Linked DNA regions of Homo sapiens. The protein of the gene in region 5 purifies or fractionates together with the protein of the main gene of each other region. This does not show direct contact. Each region holds a gene or a part of one and is shown on either strand. Other genes may lie near its edges.

Region 1 (3,500 bases), on a different chromosome or scaffold from region 5:
TGGCATGGCCACCAGTGCTCCCTCCCGTCCCAGCACATGGCCAACAGATGCCACGGCCCTGGAGGCTCAGCTCTCCCTTCCTAGTCCAAGCTTCTGGTGGCTTCCAGGGCCCCTGATCTTTCTGTACCACACTCCATCTGCGGCTGCAAAGTCAAGGCGTGGAGCCCCACGAGCTCAGCAGGCTCCTTCAGTTTACTGATCTAACAGACTTGGGTTCCTCCTGTGCTCCCAGAGTGGGGTATGAGGGACAAGACAAACGGATGCACACGCTCCCGTCCCTCTGACGGCTGCACCACCCACCTCTGCCTACCCGTGCAGACACGGACACCTCGGCTCAAACCCCTCTCAAAAATGACTCCAGGAGAAGGCTAGTCCCTCTGCCAGCCAAAAGGAGCCACAAGGCTGGGGATGGGAGAGAGGAAGGAGGAAGGAGGGAGGAGGAGGGAGGAGGAGGGAGGAGGAGGGAGGAAGGAGGGAGGAGGAGGGAGGAAGGAGGGAGAAGGAGGGAGGAGGAGGCAGGAAGGAGGGAGGAGGCGGCAGGAAGGAGGGAGGAAGGAGGAGGGAGGAGGGAGGGTGGAGGAGGGAGGAAGGAGGGAGGAAGGAGGGAGGAAGGGAGGAGGAGGGAGGAGGAGGGAGGACAGAGGGCCTGCCCTCCCCAGGCCACAACCACAGAAGCCGGTGCGCACTCCATCCCAGACTCAACCTCCAGGGCACTGGTGCTGACTTGAAACCAAGAGAATGCGGCAAGGTAGTGAGTGGCCTTCTACAGAGAGCCCCTGCGATTCCCCGTGCCCAGCCCAGCACAGCAGTCATCTTTCAGGTGACTTGAACAAAAATCAGTGTAGTCTCAGTCTCAGCCACCCTTGAGCACAATTCTCTTCAAATACCGTGAAGAATTAGCTCACCAAAATTTAAACTCTGGGAGCCTTCGAATGAAGGGGCGGAATTCCTCGTTCTGTTTGGTGGGTAGCGAAGGACCGTCATCTGTAAGGCAGAGCAACCATCAGGGAGGGCACCTCTTTTCATTCCCATCACAGTTCTACCTTTTCCCCTCAAGGCTTTGGACTAGCAGGCCTCACAAATCTAAACCGAGATTCATGTCATTTAACCAGAGAAAACGAGAAAACGGGGGTCTGTGGTCAACTGACACATCCAATTCACTGCTTTCAGAAGGTGCTATCAGAATGTTTTTAGACTTCCACACGTTTTCAATGCACGAAGAATTCAACCACATATAAACATCCAGGAACACGTCAGCTGCACCACGTAAAGGCACAGAAGAAAACAAAGGCAAATTAACATAAAAAGCAAGCGGCAGAGAACAGGGCGGGGCCGAGGATGCGCTGACCGTGGAACCCGGGCGCCAGGCCTGTCCCACCAGCAGCTGTGCCAAGCCCACTCTCACCCCGCCTCCCCCACTGGGATGGGTGCCGCTCCCCATTTACAGATGGGAAAACTGAGGCCTACAGGAAAGGGGCTCTTTGTTATTTTCTAGTCTCCTCCAAACAGCAACAACAGAGAGGGGCTGTGTTCCCAGCAATCTTTTCATCACATATCCTACACAGAAGACTCACAGGCTTCTGGCCACACAGTGAGAGCATACCCTACTCCCTGACAGCAGGTTCCCCCAGAACGAGGAGGGTCCTGGCAGGGAGCTGCGTGTGGGTTTTCCCTCAATGGCCACCACGTCCTGGAATGCAGTTGTTTGTTCCTCGCCTGGGGCTGGCCAGTCAGGCATGAACTCAGGGCCCCTACCTGGCCCAGGCAGGCCCAGGAGCTGCGTAAGTCTTCCAATAGTGGAGCACGAAGCACCAGGAACACTTCAGCTCACAGCTCCTCAGAAACCAGAGAAGGCCGCCCAAAGCCTGACCCGACCCGATGCTGGCATTAGAGTCCCGGCGGTCTCTGTGCACCACAGTGAGCTGCCTGTGGAACCCTCTGGCTACGGGAAAAGGTAACCTCGTCATGGCTGCCTCCGCTGATTCTGAGAGGGACCACTGACTGGGGTGGGACGGGGGCTGGAGTCGGACTGTCCACCTCAGACCCCTACTGTCTGTGGTGCCATGTGACCTCGAACACGTTACCTAACCCTGTATGCCTCAGTTTCCTCATCTGCAAAGTGGGAAAACAGAATGAACACCCACTTCGTGGCTGTCAGGAGGGTTTGAAGAGTCATTCTACAAACATATCCTGATCACCCAACATTACAAGTACATTTCAACCCCAAGAGAAGAGTCTCGGGTGTTTCCAGAGAACACTGGGCAATCCCATCAGAAAAGAAAGGCCCAACCTGCCCACACAGCCCAGTGCACAGCCGCTACCCTACCTGAGTCTTCCATTAAGGAAGGATCCACTTTGGGAGAAAGAAAAGCTATGAAAAGATTTAGATGGTAGATCCCCAAGGCATAGGTCACAATGTACCAACCCTGAAAGAGAAGGAAAGAGAGTCAGTGGTGCACTCTGACCGTCCATCAGCCTGAGCCAGTTCACGTTTGCACTCCGGTTCACTCTCAACTTTGTTAACTGATCTAACTTTGTTTTAACACAAAACTTACTCATAGCAAGGACAAGGAAATACAGTGAAATCCCATGGTAACAATTTATCTCAAATTATACTCTGTGGGAACAGAGACAAAGCGGACAAGCAAGGGCCCAAATGAGCAAAGCTCTTCAAGGGTCCAGTTAGACACATGTGATCCCTGAAGCCACAGACGCCCCACAAGGAGCGCAGCAGAAAAGGAGGCTTTTCTCAAGAAGCACATGCTCAAGCTACACCACAGGCTCGGGTGGCCCGGGCACCTGAGCGATGCTGGCCCAGAGCCCCACCCAGGAGCAGCTTCATCAGAAACAGAAGACAGACTCTCAACTGTGACTGGAGGCGTGCTGGCTGATGTTCCTCCAACAGACAATTCACATTGCCAAAAACACTCTGCCAGGAGGGTTAAACCTTTGCCCAGAAGAAATCCACAACTGGGAAATCCAGAAAAGTGTGCTTATGCCAAGCCTTCCTCAAGAGATGAAAAGTGGGGAGAATTTTGGCAAGATGCCTGAGTGCAGCACACTTATTTGCAACTAATTCATTTTTTAAAATGATTAAGCATATCCCGTTAAAAGCCAGAACCGCATTCTCAATTTCAAAAGCCTTAAATTTCTGTCGGGTGTGGTGGCTCACGCCTGCAATCCCAGCACTTTGGGAGGCCAAGGCGGGTGGATCACCTGAGGTCAGGAGTTCAAGACCAGCCTGGCCAACATGGTGAAACCTCGTCTCTACTAAAAATACAAAAATTAGCCAGGCATGGTGGCACATGCCTGTGATCCCAGCTGCTCGGGAAGCTGAAGTAAGAGAATCACTTGAACCCAGGAGGTGGAGGTTGCAGTGAGCCAAGATCAGGCCACTGCACTCCAGCCTGGGCGACAGAGTGAGACCCCATCTCAAAACAATAAATAAAAATATAAATGCTTTAACTTTCTTATACAAACAAGAAGTCTTTCTGCCTAAA
Region 2 (3,500 bases), on a different chromosome or scaffold from region 5:
GGGTTATTAATTAATCTTTCTTACTTTATACACTAAGAATATTAAACTTTAAAAAGGATCTAGTTTAAAGAGACTCTCATCTAGAGGGGATCTAGAAAAGGCAGGAAAGAAAATAAAATAATTCACTAAATGGGCCTAGATTAACCAACCCTTTAACGGAGGAGCCTAAAACAAACAGTTTTCTTTGGTTTGTTTGTTTTCTGAGACAGAGTCTTGTTCTGTTTCCCAGGCGGCAGTGCAGTGGTGATATCATGGCCCACTGTAGCCTCCAGCTCCCAGGGCTCAAGCAATCCTCCCACCTCAGCCTCCTGAGTAGCTGGGACCATAGGTGCACGCTACCACGCCCAGCGAATCATTAAGTTTTTTGTAGAGATGAGGGTCTCACTATGTTGCTCAGGTTGGTCTTGAACTCCTGGACTCAAGCAATCCTCCTGCTCAGACTCCCAAAGTGCTGGGATTATAGGCATGAGCCACTGGAACTATCTGAGTTGTTTTTTAATAAAATATTTGCATGAAAACTAAATTCAAAAAGGTCATCCACACCCATGTGGGAAACTTGTACAATGGCAGATTTAAACAATGGCCAATTTTGCTGATAACTGGAGTGAAAATTAGAGTAGGGGTGGGATTAAAATGACAAAGAATTACTTATAGAATGGAAGACAGTAAGTACAAAAAAAAAGAAAAAAAAACAGATCAGAGGAGAAAATGAACAGAAAGATTTTGACTAATATATAGTCACACACCTGGTAAAACCATTTTGGAAAATGATGGACAGAATATATGGTGGTGGTTCCACAAGATTATACTACTATATTTCTACAGTACCTTGTGCATGTTTACATACACAAATACTTACCGTTATGTTCCAATTATCTACAGTATTCAGTACAGTAACATGCTGTACAGGTTTCTAGCCTAGGAGCAATGGGCTATACCATATGGCCTAGGTGTGTGATAAGCCATACCATCTAGATTTGTGTAAATGCACTCTATGATGTTCACACAATGATGAAATCACCTAATGACACATTTCTCAGAACATATCCCCATTGTTGACTGATGCATGATTATACTTTTATAGATAAGATTTTTTTTTTAAATTGGAAGGTGTACAGAAGAAATGGGGGGGAATATCCAGCGAGAATGATGGAGCGGGAATACATGAAATTATCACAAGAATAGGTATCTTTTAATCCACCACAGTGACACTAATTAGTGGAAATCTTTTGACTGTTTGAGATTATTTTGGTTCCTTTTATTTGTGCACTTCACCCAGTTGCCTAAGTTGATGACCCATTATTATACCTCGACTGATACACTGGGGAGAGGTCTTCTGGGATCTGAACTCCCAAAGGATCTGTAAAGACATGCTCTGTGTAGACGCCAGTTTGGGAGATGTCCACTGTGTCTTCAGCTGACCCCGCATTCCCTTCTGTAGCTTCAGTTGCTTCTTCTGCTGTTGGAACATTTTCATCAACCTCACTATTTTCTGCTTCCATTTCTACAAAGTAAATAAAACACTATTCCAAGTCTGGGCTTTTCTCCTCCAATTATTTCCCCACACAAACCCCTGTTATAGAATTCCATTCCATCTACCCACTCCTTCACACTGTACCATGAAATTAAGAATTCTTCATTCCATTTAACAGTCATTACAGCATTTTTTTTTTTTTTGAGACAGAGTCTTGCTCTGTTGCCCAGGCTGGAGTGCGGCGGCGTGATCTTGGCTCACTGCAAGCTCCACCTCCCAGGTTCACGCCATTCTCCTGCCTCAGCCTCCCGAGTAGCTGGGACTACAGGCACCCGCCACCACGCCCGGTTAATTTTTTGTACTTTTTAGTACAGACAGGGTTTCACTGTGTTAGCCAGGATGGTCTTGATCTCCTGACCTCGTGATCCACCCGCCTTGGCCTCCCAGAGTGCTGGGATTACAGGCGTGAGCCACCACGCCCGGCCTACAGTATCTTCTTTCAAGTTCTTTCAACCTTGTTACTTAAGATCTAAATTAAGTCCATAATGAGGCATCTGAGTGTAGCCTTAGACTCTATACAGATGGCAGGTAAAGAGAATGGATATACCTGGTGGTTTATCCATCACTGGAGAAGCACCATTTGTACTAGGGGAAGTGGCAGCTCCCGTCACACCTTCTGCAGAACAACCAACCACTGTGATGCCTCCTAACAGGCTGTCTGTCTCTGCTGAGCTGTTGCTTGTCATACTTCCACATAAAGATGCTTTGTCTACCTGACCAGATTCTGAAAGATCTTCTCCTGCAGGGTAGTCTGTTTCTCGTGCACCTGAAAAATAAATCTTCTTGTAACAGCAAAGTAAACTTCTATAAATAACATTTTTTTTACTAAAACAATTACAGGTTTGAAATGAGAGTTATGCAGGTGAGATGTACAGGTAGTTGAATACAGGTAGCATTAAATTTACATAAACAAATCTTCACAATATGGGAAGGTAACTTAAAAAATTAAGAAAATACTTCTATTAACACAAGTGCAAATAAACATAAAAATGTCAGAAAATAAACTTTTTTTTTTTTTTTTTTGAGACAGAGTCTTACTCTGTCGCCCAGGCTGGAGTACAGTGGCATGATTCAGCTCACTGCAACCTCCGCCTCCTTGGCTTAAGTGATTCTCCTGCCTCAGCCTCCTGAGTAGCTGGGACTACCGGTGTGAGCCACCACGCCTGGCTAATTTTTGTATTTTTGGTAGAGACAGGGTTTCGGTATGTTGGTCAGGCTGGTCTTGAACTCCTGGCCTCAAGGGATCCACCAACCTCAGACAAGTCCTAGGATTACAGGTGCGAGCCACCACGCCTAGCCAGCTTCTGTTCTTAGTGAGCTCCTCAGCAGCCACAGGTTAAAAACAATCTATTATATCTGACAACATCAGCCAAAAAAAAATTCTTTTAAATCATCAAGACTACTGCTACTACTTGAAGTATAAGCTTCTATCCATTACTGTTAAAAATTAAATGCCCCAAGTATATAGGTTGATTAAGATATTAGTAAAACATTAAAAACTAAGCATTTATAATATAAAAATATTTACAATATAAAAATAAATCTCATTTTTTAATTTAGAAAATTGTTTTATTTATATCACACTAAAAACTTTTATTGCAGTAAAAATAATATATATATAAACAAAATTTGCCACTTTAACCATTTAAAAGTGTACAATTCAGTGGCACTAATATTTACAATATTGGCATTAATATTTATAACATTGTGTAGCCATCACCATTATTTTTTTTTTTTGGCGACAGAGTTTCACTCTTGTTGCCCAGGCTGGTGTGCAATGGTACAGTCTCGGCTCACTGCAACCTCTGCCTCCCAGGTTCAAGCAATTCTCCTGCCTCAGCCTCCCAAGTAGCTGCGATTACAAGCGCCTGCCACTGCACCTGGCTAATTTTTGTATTTTTAGTAGAAACGGGGTTTTACCATGTTGGCCAGGCTGGTCTCGAACTCCTGACCTCAGGTGATCCGC
Region 3 (3,500 bases), on a different chromosome or scaffold from region 5:
AAACATAAAAATTAGCTGGGCATGGTGGCAGGCGCCTGTAATCCTAGCTACTTGGGAGGCTGAGGCAGGAGAATCGCTTGAACCCACAAGGCAGAGGTTGCAGTGAGCTGAGATGACACCATTGCATTCCAGCCTGGGCGACGAGTGAAACTCTGTCTCAAGAAAAAAAGAAAAAGAAAGAAGGGGCTGGGTACAGTGGCTCATGCCTGTAATCTCAAGACTTAAGGTGGCTACGCCGGGCGCGGTGGCTCATGCCTGTAATCCCAGCACTTGGGAGGCCAAGGCGGGCGGATCACGAGGTCAGGAGATCGAGACCATCCTGACTAACACAGTGAAACCCCGTCTCTACTAAAAATCCAAAAAATTAGCTGGGCGTGGTGGCAGGCGCCTGTAGTCCCAGCTACTCAGGAGGCTGAGGCAGGAGAATGGCGTGAACCCGGGAGGTGGAGCTTGCAATGAGCCGAGATCGCGCCACTGCACTCCAGCCTGGGTGACAAAGCGAGACTCTGTCTCAAAAAAAAAAAAAAAAAGACTTGGGGAGGCTGAGGCAGGTGGATCACTTGAGGCCTGGAGTTTGAGACCAGCCTGGCCAACATGATGAAACCCCATCTTTACTAAAAATACAAAAATTAGCAGGGCGTGGTGGAGCACGTCTGTAGTCCAGCTTACTTGGGAGGCTGAGGCATGAGAATCGCTTGAACATGGGAGGCAGAGGTTGCAGTGGGCTGAGGTCACGCCACTGCGCTGCAGCATGGGTGACAGAATGAGACTCTGTCTAAAAAAAAAAAAAAAAAATTACAAGCAAAAAGGGCCACCAGGCACAGTGGCTCATGTCTGTAATCCCAACACTTTGGGAGGTGGAGACGGGATGATCACTTGAAGCCAGGCGTTCAAGACCAACCTGGGCAAAATAGTGCGACTCCCGTCTCTGCTGAAAATTTAAAAATTAGCCAGGTGTGGTGGTGTACACCGGTAGTTCCAGCTGCTGGACAGGGTGAGGAGGAGAATTGCTTGAGCCCAGGAGTTGAAAGCTGCAGTAAGCCACAGTAGCACCACTACATTCCAGCCTAGGCCACAGAGCCAGACCCCGTCTCAAAAAAAAACCAAAAAAAAAAACCCAAAAAAAAACCGGCATGTGTGTGTCATCACTGTGAATATTACCAAGTTGCCTCCGTGGCAGTTTTTACCAGCTCCCCGTAGCCATGGCTAACAGTGCCTGTTTCCTCCCTACTGTGCCAGCATTGTGTTTTATCGCACTTTGTAATGGCCTCGAATCTTGGGTTTGTAACCACAGTTCCATACCTCCGAGTCCTCAGGGAGGCCACTGGGACCTCTCTGAGGAAAGAGCCAGCCTGGCGGCCCCCCATAGACACTGAGAGGTGCCAGATTCCAGCAGTTCTCCTCCCTCCCCAGGTCCCTCGCCGGCTCCCTCGGGGCCTCCACTGCAGCGCAGCTGCCCATAGCTCTGAACAGTCCCTGGTTCCCAGCCCACCGGAACCCCGGCAGAGGCCCACCAAGGCTCTGGTGCCCTTTGAGGACCTGTTTGGGCAGGCGCCTGGTGGGGAACGGGACAAGGCGAGCTTCCTGCAGACGGTGCAGAAATTTGCGGAGCACAGCGTGCGTAAGCGGGGCCACATTGACTTCATCTACCTGGCCCTGCGCAAGATGCGGGAGTATGGTGTCGAGCGGGACCTGGCTGTGTACAACCAGCTGCTCAACATCTTCCCCAAGGAGGTCTTCCGGCCTCGCAACATCATCCAGCGCATCTTCGTCCACTACCCTCGGCAGCAGGAGTGTGGGATTGCTGTCCTGGAGCAGATGGAGAACCACGGTGAGGCCAGGAGGCTGGCGCAGGGTGGGGAGTGGGCTACACTGATAGCTGGCAGCACCTCTCCTGAGTCTCAGCCCCTCCTTCCTCCATGGCTCCGTCTCTGTCTCTCTCGCTCTTCTCCCTCTCCGAATCCCTCTTTTCATCACTCATCTCTCTTTCTTGCCTCCCTCTGACCTCCCCTCCCCTCCCCCCTCCCTCCCTCTCCTCCCCCCACTCTCCTCTCTTCTCCTCTCCTCCCTGCCTCTCTCTCCCTCCCTTCCTTCCTCTCTTTCTCTCTTTCTTTTAGAAATGGGGTCTCACTATGTTGCCCAGGCTGCTCTCAAACTCCTGGACTCAAGTGATCCTCTCCCCTTGGCCTCCCAATGTGCTGGGATTACAGGCATGAGCCTTTTTCTTTCTAATTCTCTCTGATTCTTTTCTCCCTGTCTGTGATCAATTCCCTCACTTCACTGTTTTCTTTTCTCCTCTTCCCTTCCCTCCTCCCCCTCCATCTCTGAGGTTCTGCCTGCATCTGCCCAGCACAGGTGTGATGCCCAACAAGGAGACGGAGTTCCTGCTGATTCAGATCTTTGGACGCAAAAGCTACCCCATGCTCAAGTTGGTGCGCCTGAAGCTGTGGTTCCCTCGATTCATGAACGTCAACCCCTTCCCAGTGCCCCGGGACCTGCCCCAGGACCCTGTGGAGCTGGCCATGTTTGGCCTGCGGCACATGGAGCCTGACCTTAGTGCCAGGGTCACCATCTACCAGGTATCCGCCCTTGTCTACAGCGTCAGCTGCCACCCCAGGCCAGGCTCCCGCCATTCCTCCCCTGGGCTCCCCTTCTCTCACTCTAGTGATTGTGGTGAATCAAGTTCTTTTTTGAGACAGGGTCTTGCTCTGTTGCCCAGGCTGGAGTGTGGTGGCACTATCTCGGCTCACTGCAGCCTCTGCCTCCCAGGCTCAAGCGATCTTTCCACCTCAGCCTCCTGAGTAGCTGGGACTCCAGTCACACACCACTATGCCTGGCTAATTAAAAAAACTGTTTTTTTTTTTCAGAGACAGGGTCTCACTATATTGCCCAGGCTGGCCTTGAACTCCTGGGCTCAAGCAATCCTCCTGCCTCGGCCTCCCAAAGTGCTGGGATTACAGGCATGAGGCACTGTGCCTGGCCGTGAATTGAGTTCTGATTCTCTGGCTGAGTCCCCTGGTAGGTTCCCATGGTCCTTACTGCTAGCACAGCTTGAGTGACCTCTGCTTCAGTCCGTTCAGGCTGCTCTAACAAAATCTCTTAGCTTGGGTCATTGATGAACAACAAAAATTTATTGCTCACAGTTCTAGAGGCTGGGAAGTCCAAGATCAAGGTGCCACCAGATCTAGGTCTGGTGAGGGTTTGCTCTCTGCTTCAAAGATGACACCTTGCTGTGTCCTCACATAATATAAGGGGCAAACAAGCCCCTCAGACCTCTTCATATTTTTTTTGAGACAAGGTCTGGCTCTGTTGCCCAGGCTGGAGCGCAGTAGCACTATCTTGGCTCACGGCAAATTCCACCTCCCAGGCTGAAGCCATCCTTTCACCTCAGCCTCCCAAGTAGCTGGGACTACAGTCGTACACCACCACGCCCGGCTAATTTTTGTATTTCTTGTAGAAATGGGGTTCCACCATGTTGCCCAGGCTGGTCTCAAACTCGT
Region 4 (3,500 bases), on a different chromosome or scaffold from region 5:
TGTCTTATTTGAATCCCCAGCGCCTAGCACAGTACCAGGGGCAAATGACTTGAGAAATGAATGAATGAGCTCAAAATACAACATGAGGTTTCCACTGCTAGGTGCCAATTGAATGTGTGATACACATCAGGCATCTTAGTGGATCTTCTTAGACATCCAGACAACCAGGGTCCACCCAAGACCTACTGAATAAGAATGGCCAAGAGTGGGGCCTAGGGATCTGTATTCTTTTAAGTGCCACAGCTGACTTCTTTCATTTTATTTTTTATTATGGAAACTTTCAAGCATACAAAAGAAGTAAAGAATATGCTGGGCACAGTGGCTCATGCCTATAATCTCAACACTTTGGGAGGTCAAGGCAGGCAGATCTCTCGAGGCCACAAGTCCAAGACCAGCCTGGCCAACATGGTGAAATCCCATCTCTACTAAAAATACAAAAACTAGCTGGGCATGGTGGTGCATGCCTGTAAACCCAGCTCCTACTTGGGAGGCTGAGGCATGAGAATCGCTTGAACCTGGGAGGCAAGAGGCAGAGGTTGCAGTGAGCCGAGATCGCACCACTATATTCCAGCCTGGGTGACAGAGCAAGACTCTGTCTCAAACAACAACAAAAAGAAGAATATAATTAACTTCCATGTGCTCTTCATCCAAATTCAAATAACAACATTCTGCCATCCTCCACAACTCATTCTATGTGTACCAAAGGTTAGTCAGCAATGTTGACAGAGATAATAATACCTGAGTTTACAACAAGGAGAGAGAGCTCATCCAGCTAGGAGGTCAAGGAAGGCTACAGAGAGAGGGTAGGATTTGAGATGGGTATAGAAGAATGTGTTTATGACTTTAATGGAAGAAGAAGAAGAAGGAGGAGGAGAAGGAGAAGGAGAAGCGGGGGAGGAGGGGGGAGGAGGGGGGAGGAGGGGGAGGAGGGGGAGAAGAAGGAGAAGAAGAAGGACATTTTTGATCTAGGGAAAGGTAGAATCAAAGGTAAGTCAGGTCAGTTGTTACAGAGACCATTTCCTTTAAAATCTTTATACCAATTATTTCTCGAAATCTACTCTCCATCTTGAGCTGCCTACAACACACCTCCTTCTTTGCTGTCAACTAATATTTCAATCCCAATTTCCCTGTATCTCCGCTTTCTCCCCAAACTGGCTGGTCTTCTCGACCTTTCAATGTCTATTAGTGGTACTAATATTCTCCTACTTTTTAAGCTCAGATACTTGGGACCCAAAGTACTTTTCACTTCTACTCTCCAACTTTCAATTCTGTAGCCTGCCAATGGTTCTCTACAGTGCTTCTGAATTTAATCCTTTCTCTTTGCCAGGGACTCTTCCCCTCATATCTGAACTACTACAGCAGTGCTGGCTGGTCTCTGTGCCTCCAGCTACCCTGTACTCACTGATTAGTTCTCCAAGGATCCCACTGTCAGCAGACCACAGTAACTTCCTACAATGACTTCCTATTGACAACTGAATCAAAATAAACTCTTCACTGTAATGTTTAAAGCCTTCAATGCCCTCAATGACCTGTCCTATATTTCCACTATTCCTTAAAATAGCCCCTTCTCAACCCCTGCCAGCCACAGAACTTCTTTTTTTTTTAAAAAAAAAAAAACTACCTCTCACCCAGGTGCAGTGGCTCACACCTATAATCCTAGCACTTTGGGAGGCCAAGGTGAGCGGATCACTTGAGGTCAGGAGTTCGAGACCAGCTTGGCCAACATGGCGAAACCCCGTCTCTACTAAAAATACAAAAATTAGCCAGGTGTAGTGGCACACACCTGTAATCCCAGTTACTCGGGAGGCTGAGGCAGAAGAATCACTTGAACCCGGTGGGCGGAGTGAGCTGAGAAGATCATGTGACTGCACTCCAGCTGGGCAATGGAGCGAGAAAACCCTACCTCTCATGTATCCACTTGCTTTGGACCCCTCTCCACTAACCTTGTTACTGAGCTCACAACTCCCTTTATTTCATTCATTTGTCCAGTTTTTTTTTTTTTTGAGACAGTCTCACTCTGTTGCCCGGGCTGGAGTGCAGTGGCGCGATCTCTGCTCACTGCAAACTCCGCCTTCCCAGGTTCATACCATTCTCCTGCCTCAGCCTCCAGAGTAGCTGGGACTACAGGCGCCTGCCACCACGCCCGGCTAATTTTTTTTTTTTTTGTATTTTTAGTAGAGACGGGGTTTCACCGTGTTAGCCAGGATGGTCTTGATCTCCTGACCTCATGATCCGCCCGCCTCGGCCTCCCAAAGTGCTGGGATTACAAGCATGAGCCACCACGCCCAGCCATTTGTCCAGTTTTAAGTAAATTTTTACTTTAGTAAATTTATTTAAATTTACTTATTACGTGCCAGGTTCTAAGCCAGATACACAGAACACAAAAAGACCCACAGTTCTTGTCTGGTCCTTCATGAAAATTTCCTGAGTAAAACAGCCACCAAGTGACCCTTTTAAAAAACACATCATTTCTCTAAAGCTTTGAACTACACACATTTGTTTTTTTGAGACAAGGTCTCGCTGTGTCACCCAGGCTGGAGTGCAATGGCATGATCACAGCTCACTGCAGCCTCAACCTGCTGGGAGCAAACAATCCTCCTACGTCAGCCCTCCAAGTAGCTGGGACCACAGGCGCACGCCACCATGCCTGGCTAATTTTTGCATTTTTTGTAGAGGTGGGGTTCTACCATGTTGCCCAGGTTGGTCTCAAACTCCTGGGCTCAAGCAATCTGCGCACCTTGGCCTCCCAAAGTGCTGGGATTACAGGCATGAGCCACTGCACCCAGCCTGAACTACACACATTCTTATCTGCTTAGATGTTGACTTAGAATTGTTCTCTAGTTGGCCGGGTCTGGTAATCCCAGCACTTTGGGAGGCCGAGGCGGGTAGATTACGAGGTCAAGAGATCGAGACCATCCTGGCCAACATGGTGAAACCCCGTCTCTACTAAAAATACAAAAAACTAGCCAGGTGTGGTGGTGGGCACCTGTAGTCCCAGATACTCGGGAGGCTGAGACAGAAGAATCACTTGAACCCGGGAGGCGGAGGTTGCAGTGAGCCAAGATTGCGCCACTGCACTCCAACCGGTGACAGAGCGAGATTCTGTCTCAAAAAAAAAAAAAAAAAAAAAAAAGAATTGCTCTCTCTAGTTGTTCTGTGTCTTATCTTACAGCTTAAAATTATCTTGAAAGTAGAACCAATATCTTCTATTTCTTTGCTGTAGCCCACAAAACCTAGTACAGTAATACGCAACTTGTAGGTATTAAAGAAACATTTGTTGAATTGATAAATCAGATACTAAGTTAATGAAATGATTATTAAATGGGTCACAGAGCTTATTAAAAATTTGATTAAAAGTTATGGCCCCTCTCCCAGGAAAAGTAAACCTATGAACCTGTAGCCAAATTCTGCATAGTTTGGGGAAGGAAAAAAAAAATCACTGAAATCCTGAAACCTATCACGGTCCCCTCACAATGACTTAGTTCAAAAGACCCTAAAAC
Region 5 (2,543 bases):
TCCACCCAGTGTCCACTGGCCTGTCCTTCAGGGAGCAGAGCAGAGCAGGTGGTGGACGGGCCCAGTGCTGGGTGTTTTCACCACCATCCCCCCATCCCCCATCTAAGAATCCTAAGAGGCAGGCGATCCCTCACCTGCTTACTCACTCAGCAGTTACCCGGCCCCTGTGCTGGAGATACCAAGGGCATGGGTGGTCCCTGCTTCGATGGCCCCAAAGCTGGGCCAGAGTTAAGGGAAAGAGGAGGAAGTCCTAAGCAGAGAAGTAGCACCATTATCCCCATTTAACAGAAGGGAAACTGAGGCTCGGCAAGCATAGGCGAGTTGGCAGTGGAACACGGATCTAAACTCAGGTGTGTCCAAGTCCTCCCAAAGGACAGCAGTGATGGAGAGGACCCCAGCCAGCTGTGTGACAGCTGGTTGTTGCTGACTTCATTTTCCAATCCGGAGAAGGGGCTCTGTCCACAGTCCCCCGCCGCCAGGTGGCCCACATGGGACCAGCATGGGGGCAGGTTATCTGTTGGCCTGAAGAGTGAAACCTGTACCAGGCCAAAGGTGAGGGCGTGAGTGAGGGCAGGAGTGTTTATGGCAGAGTGAAGTTCTGTGCCCACCACAAGAGGCTGTGAGATGTTCTGACCCTCACCCACTGTCCACCAAAAGCCTCTCCTGCTGATGGGCACTAGGAGACCTCAGGGTACTGCCCATCTGTTTCTCCTCGGGTGCCAGCCAGCTGCTGGTGATCCTCAGCCGGAGGGCAGGGTACCAGGTAAGCTTAACTCCATCTTGGGTGTTTGTGACAGGCCCTGCCTGCCACCCTAGGCAGGGAAAGCTGTCAAGACTCCTGCCAGGAATGGGGGGTGCTGAGTCATCTCACGAAGAATCCCTCACTCTTCCCGGGTTCAGCCCAGAAGCCCTTCCAGGCATGATCTTCCCCATCAGGCTGGGCTCTGGCAGGGACCTGCCCAGGATGGAGATGAGAGAGGGTGAGAGATGGAGGGCGAGATTTGGATGGGACCCAGGGCTCCTGACTCTGCCCTGGAAGGTTCATGGGGAAACTCGCTCCTTCTGTTGGCAGAGGACAGCCCCTGGGGAACCCCAGGCCCAACTCTGTCCGGTATCCCTTTTCCTCCCAGCTGCCCTCCCCTACTTCTCCCTTGCTCCCAAAGCTTTCCTTGGAGAAGGGCCCTCCTGCAGCTGGACCCTGCAGGGTGGCTCCCTCCTCCCCATCAAGCACAAGAGAGGGCCCAGGAAAAAAGGTTTCACATAAGTGTAGAGTCGCAAGGACGCTTAGAGTCGGCAGAGTCTGGGGTAGGGAGACAGCGACTTGTCCAAGGTCAAGCACAGAGGGAGAGGTTCAGGAGTCAGGTCTTCTGCCTTCTGAGTTGGCTCATCCTGGGCAGTCACAGACTGTCCTGCCTGCACGGCTCCTATCCACCTGGGGGTGTCGCAGTTGAGGGGCTAATTCCCAGGGGACTGACGTTAGTTCCCTACTCCATCCTTCCCTGGTGATTCTTGATCTTCAAAGCCTCGGGGATCCCAGGTTTCCCCATGTAACTGAGACACCCTGCCTGTTAGCCCTGGGAGACCCCTAACCTTGGCCCAAGACCCCTTTGATTCTCTAAGGAGCACGAAAGGGGGAATGCCCCTCCCAGGAGTTTATGGGAGAAGGGACTGGGCCGGCTGCCTCCCAGCGATGCACTTGACCTGACACTCCCCATGTCCTGGTGCGCACAGCCCTTGTCGGTGCCCCGGCCCCTCCCGCAGCGTTACTGCCTGTGTATAGTATAAATATATATATTTTCTATATATAAGATGTATAATATAAGGCTCCACAAATATATCTGTGTGTGTGTGTGCGTGTGTGTGCGGTGAAGGGCGGTCCCCATCCTGGGCCCCCACTCTAGACCCCCCCACCACCTGGTTAAGTCTCGAGTGAATCCAGTGGCCCCGTGGCACCCTCCTTTATGACATCCATCCATCTGTGGTGAACCAAGTGAAGGTGGTGACTTCTGGTGACATAGTAATAAAGTGAAGACTCAGAACCCACCAGCGATTGCAAGTGTGTCACCGTGTTTCTTTGTTCTTCATTCTGCGTTTGGCTTGGATGCTCCATCCCGTTTGTCTCCTTAGACAGGCCATGTCTTACTTGGTTATTATTGTTTGTTAATTTTTCATTACACAATGAACCTATGAATATATTATCTTTTTAAAAAGTAAAATTGGCCGACTGCAGTGGCTCATGCCTGTAATCCCAACACTTTGGGAGGCCAAGGTGGGTGGATCACCTGAGGTTAGGAGTTCGAGACCAGCCTGACCGACATGGTGAAAACCTGTCTCTACTAAAAATACAAAAAAAAAAAAAAATTAGCCGGGTGTGGTGGCAGACGCCTGTAATCCCAGCTACTCGGGAGGCTGAGACAGGAGAATCACTTGAACCGGGGAGGCAGAGGTTGCAGTGAGCCAAGATTGTGCCATTGCACTCCAGCCTTGGCATCAAGAGCAAAAATCCATCTAAAAAAAAAAAGGAAAATTATTACAGTTGAAGC
Region 6 (3,500 bases), on a different chromosome or scaffold from region 5:
TGGCCTCCCAAAGTGCTAAGATTACAGGCATGAGCCACTATGCCTGGCCAATAATTCTTAGTTACCTTGGTATACTTTTCCTATGGGTGATAATAAAAGCATATCATCCTGTATAAGACAAATATTATTTTTCAGTTTCCCGTATCAATAAGGACAAAAGCTTGTTCAAAAGCAGTAGTGTCCCTATACTTCTAGCTGAGGGCCTAAGAAGCAGCATCACTCCAGCTGCAATGAACACACCTAGCATTCAGAACTTTGTTTCTAAATAACATTCTCTAATAAAAGGAGCCAGGGCCCTTGAAGAAGTGGTCAATTCCAGGGCTGAACTAAGCAAGATAAACCTGGATCATCTTATAGTTCTAGAATGTAATAAAGTGCTTTTAAAAAAAAAAAGTGAGATAGAGGTATGGCAAAAGGACAAAGGGGTCAAGATGAAAGCGGTCCCAATGGCCAAAACTAGAATAATCCAAACAACAGAATGAATATAGTATACAGAGTCCAGAGTATAAAATATCCAAATCTATACTGACATAAATAGTTAAATAAATGCAAAGAAATGACAACTCTTCCTTACAGAAGAATTTTAATTATTAAATAAAAATGAATGAGAGAAACAGAAAAGTCACCATTGAAACACCTGAGTAATGACTGTTACAGGCAAGATTAACCTATGAATGCAAAAATTAGTAGGCAAAAATTTAAAAACAGGATATTTGCAGAGCTCCAAAGAATAGCCCCTAAAATGCTGATTAATTACAAAGGGAAACAGTCACTTTATGGTGGAGAAATCTGGCAGACACTACATTAACCAAGGGATTATGGCTGACATCACCAGTATTAGGGCATTTCAATATGCACCCCTGATCCAATGCACTGAGAGGACCATATCATCTCAGGGGTATTCTTCCCCAAAATCCATTACCTCCGTCAAACCACAAGAAAACATTAGACAAAACCAAATTGAGGGACATTCTACAAAATACCTGACCAGAGCTCTTCAAAGTGTCAAGGTCATAAAAGATGAGGAAATGCTAAGGAACTATCACAGATAAACGACTAAGGAGATATAACAACTAAACGCAATATGTGGCCAGGCGCGGTGGCTCATGCCTGTAATCACAGCATTTTGGGAGGTCGAGGCAGGTGGATCACCTGAGGTCAGGAATTCGATACCAGCCTGGCCAGCATGGTGAAACCCCGTATCCACTAAAAATACAAAGATTAGCTGGCATGGTGGCAGGGACCTATAATCCCAGCTACTCGGGAGGCTAAGGCAGGAGAATCTCCTGAATCTGGGAGGTGGAGGTTGCAGTGAGCCGAGATCTCGCCACTGCACTCCAGCCTGGGTGACAGAGCGAGACTCCGTCTCAAAAAAAAAAAAAAAAAAAAAAGGGGGGGGCGGGCGTGCTGGCTCACACCCGTAATCCCAGCACTTTGGAGGCTGAAGTGGGCAAATCATGAGGTCAGGAGATCGAAACCATCCTGGCTAACATGGTGAAATCCCATCTCTACTAAAAATATAAGAAATTAGCCAGGCGAGGTGGCGGGCACCTGTAGTCCCAGCTACTCGGGAGGCTGAGGCAGGAGAATGGCATGAAACCGGAAGGCGGAGCTTGCAGTGAACCAAGATCGTGTCACTGCACTCCAGCCTGGGTGACAGAGCGAGACTCTGACTCAAAAAAATAAATAAATAAATAAATAAAATAAAAATAAAAATGCAATATGGAATATTAGATCATAGAACAGAAAAAAAATTAGTGAAAAAATGGTAAAACTTTTTTTTTTTTTTTTTTTTTTTTTTTTTTTTTACACAGGGTCTTGCTCTGGTGCCAGGCTACATACAGTGCAGTGGCATGATCATAGCTCAATGCAGCTTCCTCATCCCAGGCTCAAGCAATCCTCCCACTTCAGCTTCCCAAGTAGCTGGGACCACAGGTGTGCGCCACCAAACCAGCTAACTCTTTTTTAATTTTATGTAGAGAGGGAGTCTCCCTATGTTGCCCAGACTGGTCATAAATTCCAGAGCTCAAGGCATCCCCTCGCCTCAGCCTCCCAAAGTGCTGAGATTATAGGCATAGCCACTGTGCCCAGCAAAAATGGTAAAATCTTAACAACTATGGTTTAGTTAATAGTATTGTACCAATGCTATCATCTTAGTTTTGATCACTGTACTATGACTATGTAGGATATTAACATTGGGGGAAGCTGGGTGAAGGGTATACAGATCTCTCTGCAATATTTTTGCAAGTATTCTGTAAGTTTAAAATGATTTCAAGTAAAAAGCTAAAAAACAGGCTGGTGCAGTGACTCATGCCTGTAATCCCAGCACTTTGGGAGGCAGAGGCAGGTAGATCACTTGAGGTCAGGAATTCAAGACCAGCCTGACCAACATGGTGAAACCCTATCTCTACCAAAAATACAAAAATTAGCTGGGTGTGGTGGCACACACCTGTAATCCCAGCTACTCAGGAGGCTGAGGCAAGAGAATTGCTTGAACCCAGGAGGTGGAGGTTGCAGTAGGCCAAGATCACACCACTGCACTCCAGCCTGGGCAACAGAGTGAGACTCTGGCTGAAAAAAAAAAAAAAAAGTAAAAAACAAAAAACAGTGGTATCTAGTCTCTGGATCCAGCTGCCTATTTGCAGGAAATAGAGATGATAGAGGAACATGTTAAATTGTATCATGATATATAATCAGGAAAATTCAAACTATGGGAGATCTGTCTGGATTCTTCAATAGATAAACACTATGGAAGAGAAAGGGAACCTGGGACCCTAAAAATTAAGAGAGATTGAAAACACAAACAAAAACTTTTTTCTTAGGGGCAAGACTAAGCCTAACGGCAAATGAACTAGGGATGTTCATTTGAGTAATAAAACTTTTAAAAATACAAAGATGTCATTACATATAAAAGTCAGGATAATAGTTACTTATGAAAAGAGTGAGGGGATTGTGACGAAGGGGGGCTTCTGAAGTGAGTGGCAAAGTTCTGATTCTTGACTTGGATGACAGTTACAAAAATGTTCACCTTACAATAATTCACCATAGAATACATTGTTATGTGTGTCTTACAAATTCTGTTTAATTTTGTAATAACGGCTTTTTTTTTTTTTTTGAGACAAAGTCTTGCTCTATTGCCCAGGCTGGAGTGCAGTGGCATGATCTCAGCTCACTGCAACCTCCACCTCCTGAGTTCAAGTGATTCTCCTGCCTCAGCCTCCTGAGTAGCTGGGACTACAGGCTCCTGCCACCACACCCAGCTAATTTTTGTATTTTTAGTAGAGACAAGGTTTCACCATGTTGCCTAGGCCGGTCTCGAACTCAAGCTCAAGCAATCTACCCACCTCCCACCTTAGCCTCCCAAAGTGCTGGGATTACAGGTGTGAGCCACCTCGCCTGGCCATAAAGGCTTTTTTAAGTAGTGGTATCAGAAGTGCTCTTCCTGACCCTGATTCTTTTATTTTTGAGACAAGGTCTTGTTCTGTCGCCCAGGCTGGAGT
Region 7 (3,500 bases), on a different chromosome or scaffold from region 5:
ATGGCCTTCTTAAAAGGACACCAGTCTCAGATTTTGGAGCACCCTGATCCAGTATGATCTCATCTTAATTAGTTATATCTGAAAGACTCAAATATTTCCAAATAAGGCCCATTCATAGATACCAGAGGTTGAGACTTCAACATATCTTGTTCAACGTATCAAATTGTGAGTTGACACAGTTCAGACTGCAACTTGGCCATATGTATTAACCAATTAAATTTTTCTCATATTGCCAAATATGTATTAAAAATAGAAGTTAACTCAAAACTTGGGTAGCAGGAAATAACTTTTGTCTTCATTTTTCTTTGGAGAATTAAACTTAACTGAGCAGACTATAAAAAGTTCATGAATTCTGTATTTTAATTTTGGTAAAGCATTTAATAGTCTCATTATATTCAGATGGATACAATGATGAAATATAGGCTGTGTGACTTTACTTACAGTGAGTGTTGATAATGTCTGTGTTCCAACCTGAAAGGGAGTCTCTTATGTCTTAGGAAGTTTTTCAAAATACAGTCACCCCTCCATATCTGTGGATTCTGCATCTGTGGACTCAACCAGTTGCAGATTGAAAATATTCAAGAAGGAAAAATTGCATGCCTACTGAACAAGTATTGTGTCTGTACTGAATACTTACAGACTTCTTTCTTTTCATTATTTCCTAAACAGTACAACTATTTACATAGCATTTACATTATATTAGGTTTTATAAGTAGTCTAAAGATCATTTAAAGTATACAAGAGGATGTGCATAGGTTATATGCAAAAACTACACCATTTTATGTCAGTGACTTGAGCATCTGAGAATTTTGATATCCAAGGGAGGTCCTGGAACCAATACCCCATGGATACTGAGGGACAACTGTCTTGTCTTAGCTCCAGCTGTTATCAGTGACTTTCTGGAGTTTATTTATGTTTGTTTTGTTTTTTAATATTCAAGACAGTTTAAGGAGAGACATCAAAGAAAACAGACATAGTACTGGAGATTGTCAAGGTATGAATAGCAGCACCAACCAGTGGGCAAAGGAATCTTGTGTAACGGCTTCTAACTAGATTTTGTGGACCAATACAAGAAAATGTATATCTATTTGAGAGGGGCGGGCCGTGTGGACAGGGAAAAGGGCTGGGTATAAAAACTGACCTAGAATTACATTTTTTAATTTTGCTGAATAAAGACATCCAAAAACAAAACAACCTCTGTTATATCTGTTTTTATCATTTCATAAAGGAAAGGCTGTTTTGACAAAATGGAATAAAATAATCTCAGAATAAAGGACACATTTTAAAATGGAATAAATTTAGCTTTAAAAGTTCTTTTCTACGTTGTCCATGACTAGAAAATTTTGTCACAGAATAGCAATGACTTCTGGCAAGCATTGATGATCTGAGGTATTTCCAAACACATTTTTGAAAATGGCTTACCACACTGAGTAGAGAGGCAAATAGAGTGGGAATGGAGCAATGAAATTGGGTATCTGGTAGGATTTAAAGGATTTGAGAACACCAGTGAAAATGAAGAGCAGATTTATCTTAGGAAAGAGCTTGAAGGGTAGTTCCTACTTGGGGAGGTAAATGTGTTTTGGATTTTAGAGGTGGAACAGTTTTAAGGGTTGACCTTGCTCATGGGTGGCTTTCCATAGAATTAAGATGGAGGTCACAGGAGGAGAAGCGCTGTTAAGCTTACATGGTAAAAAGGTTTTATTGTGAATGAATGCTATAGGATAAATGCCATCAGAGCATGAATTCCAAAGGATGATAATGGAGTGGGGGAGAAGCATATTGAATGATCTGGGTGCTGAAGTCATTAAGCAAATTATGAATATATTCAGATGTTAGTGGAATATAGCAACAAGTACGGAAGTGAGAATCAGTGTGTACTGTGGTTTGGAGCATAGTTTCAAGTTCTACCACCTGCTATGTAGCCTGGGAAAATTATTTGACAGTTCTGTGCCTCATTTCCTCATCAAAAAGTAGGATTAAAAATAGTACCTGCTGCTTCATAGAGTCATTTACAAGATTAAATGAATTAATGTTTAAAGAGCTTCAAATAATACATAGCACAAAACATGAGAGATGGTTGAGAAATATGGTAAAACATGATACTTCTGTAACCTGTGAGTCTCAGAAATGACTAAGGATTGGAATGGAACTGCTGCCAATAGAAAGTCAGGTTTTATAAAGAGAGCAGACAGCAATTTCTTTTAGAAAAGCTAGAAGTTATTGGATACCTTGTTTATGCCAGACAGTGACTTTTACAGTAGGTTGGCAAGTATGCAAAATGGAATGAATTTCTTGGAGGTAGGTTAGTGCTGAGCTTTCAGGAATGGGACTGGTGGAGTAGCTGAGGGGCGAGGTGCTCCATTCTAGAGTGATATCCCCTGGAAAACAGGGATGGAGGAAGCTAGAGATGGGTAGGGAGCCACATGATATATTCCAGCTAGACTTTCAAGGGAGGAGTGTTGAATAGGTTGTATGTATTATTAGGAGATTTGTAAAACTAACTGCTTGCCGTATCTTTATGCTTATATATAAATTAAAAGAGCATTTAGAAAGCTCATTATACAAATATAACATTTATATAAACTTTTAGAAATGTAATTCACTGTTTTATTCATTTGTTTAACAGTGCTATACTGACTATGTGATGGCCACTGTTCTAGGTCCTGGGACAGTAGACAACAGGAAAATCCTTCTTGTGGATCTTATTTTTATATATTTACTTACCTAAGTATGACATACTGCTGTGATTTGAAAGATGTGCTACTGTGGTGTTTCTGGGAAAATTTCCTTCCTTCCTTTTCTCAATAAATATTGAATACCTGTTCGCTAGGCATTGGAGATACAAAGATCAAGTTAGACATGGTTCCTGCTCTAACAATCCGGTGGAGGAAACAGAAAAAGAGGCAATTAGAAATAGTGTGATAAAGGTACAACGTTCTAGAAGCAGATAGACTTTGAAGGCCATGGAAAGTTTTTTTGTTCCCCCTGCTTGCTCAAGGTAGAGATGAGTAGACTGGACCTTGAAGAGTAAGTAGGAGTTAGTCAAATGTAGAGATGCGGTAGGGGGAAGAAAAAATATTTCTGGCAAAGAGAATAGGATATTTAAGGAATTGAAAGTGATTTAATATGGTTGGAACGTAGACTGTGAGTGATTGGGTTTGAAGAGAGGTTAGCAGGACCTGGTTTTTGAAGGGCTTTGTAAAACATGTTAGGATAGAATCCAAGCTCTTAAGTGTAGTGGGAAGGGAAGTTTTACAAAGATTTGAAGAGAAATATCAGATTTATGTATTAAAAAGATAATTTATTATTACAGTATAGAGAGAGAATTGGAAGGTTGAAGATTAGAGGTTGTTGAAGCAATGTAGTGATAGATTGTGGCAGTTGGGACTAGGAACATACTTGGACATAAGGAATTTCTCAGTAGGCCTGAAGAAGAGAAGACAGGCAGATTTAAGAGAAATTTAGAAATAGCTTAAGTCTAAAGATATAACCCATGTTTC

Evidence for each region.
Region 1: the proteins of SYNGR1 (region 5) and RER1 purify together in Homo sapiens (affinity purification with mass spectrometry; one large-scale study listed by BioGRID and IntAct). This does not show direct contact.
Region 2: the proteins of SYNGR1 (region 5) and SPAG9 purify together in Homo sapiens (affinity purification with mass spectrometry; one large-scale study listed by BioGRID and IntAct). This does not show direct contact.
Region 3: the proteins of SYNGR1 (region 5) and ECSIT purify together in Homo sapiens (affinity purification with mass spectrometry; one large-scale study listed by BioGRID and IntAct). This does not show direct contact.
Region 4: the proteins of SYNGR1 (region 5) and MTMR4 purify together in Homo sapiens (affinity purification with mass spectrometry; one large-scale study listed by BioGRID and IntAct). This does not show direct contact.
Region 6: the proteins of SYNGR1 (region 5) and PIGU purify together in Homo sapiens (affinity purification with mass spectrometry; one large-scale study listed by BioGRID and IntAct). This does not show direct contact.
Region 7: the proteins of SYNGR1 (region 5) and ERGIC2 purify together in Homo sapiens (affinity purification with mass spectrometry; one large-scale study listed by BioGRID and IntAct). This does not show direct contact.

The regions. Positions count from the first base shown.
Region 1 is NC_000001.11:2,398,341-2,401,840, reverse strand, and holds part of RER1 (protein RER1), read right to left. Parts: intron 2,427-3,500; coding exon 2,327-2,426; intron 985-2,326; coding exon 906-984; intron 1-905. UniProt on the Homo sapiens protein: Involved in the retrieval of endoplasmic reticulum membrane proteins from the early Golgi compartment.
Region 2 is NC_000017.11:50,988,369-50,991,868, forward strand, and holds part of SPAG9 (C-Jun-amino-terminal kinase-interacting protein 4), read right to left. Parts: intron 2,301-3,500; coding exon 2,082-2,300; intron 1,505-2,081; coding exon 1,309-1,504; intron 1-1,308. UniProt on the Homo sapiens protein: The JNK-interacting protein (JIP) group of scaffold proteins selectively mediates JNK signaling by aggregating specific components of the MAPK cascade to form a functional JNK signaling module.
Region 3 is NC_000019.10:11,512,135-11,515,634, reverse strand, and holds part of ECSIT (evolutionarily conserved signaling intermediate in Toll pathway, mitochondrial isoform 1 precursor), read left to right. Parts: intron 1-1,413; coding exon 1,414-1,831; intron 1,832-2,355; coding exon 2,356-2,579; intron 2,580-3,500.
Region 4 is NC_000017.11:58,497,639-58,501,138, forward strand, and holds part of MTMR4 (phosphatidylinositol-3,5-bisphosphate 3-phosphatase MTMR4), read right to left. Parts: intron 1-3,500. UniProt on the Homo sapiens protein: Lipid phosphatase that specifically dephosphorylates the D-3 position of phosphatidylinositol 3-phosphate and phosphatidylinositol 3,5-bisphosphate, generating phosphatidylinositol and phosphatidylinositol 5-phosphate.
Region 5 is NC_000022.11:39,383,533-39,386,075, forward strand, and holds the end of SYNGR1 (synaptogyrin-1), read left to right. Parts: 3' UTR 1-2,043; downstream 2,044-2,543. UniProt on the Homo sapiens protein: May play a role in regulated exocytosis. Modulates the localization of synaptophysin/SYP into synaptic-like microvesicles and may therefore play a role in synaptic-like microvesicle formation and/or maturation.
Region 6 is NC_000020.11:34,667,093-34,670,592, forward strand, and holds part of PIGU (GPI-anchor transamidase component PIGU), read right to left. Parts: intron 1-3,500. UniProt on the Homo sapiens protein: Component of the glycosylphosphatidylinositol-anchor (GPI-anchor) transamidase (GPI-T) complex that catalyzes the formation of the linkage between a proprotein and a GPI-anchor and participates in GPI anchored protein biosynthesis.
Region 7 is NC_000012.12:29,374,673-29,378,172, reverse strand, and holds part of ERGIC2 (endoplasmic reticulum-Golgi intermediate compartment protein 2), read left to right. Parts: intron 1-3,500. UniProt on the Homo sapiens protein: Possible role in transport between endoplasmic reticulum and Golgi.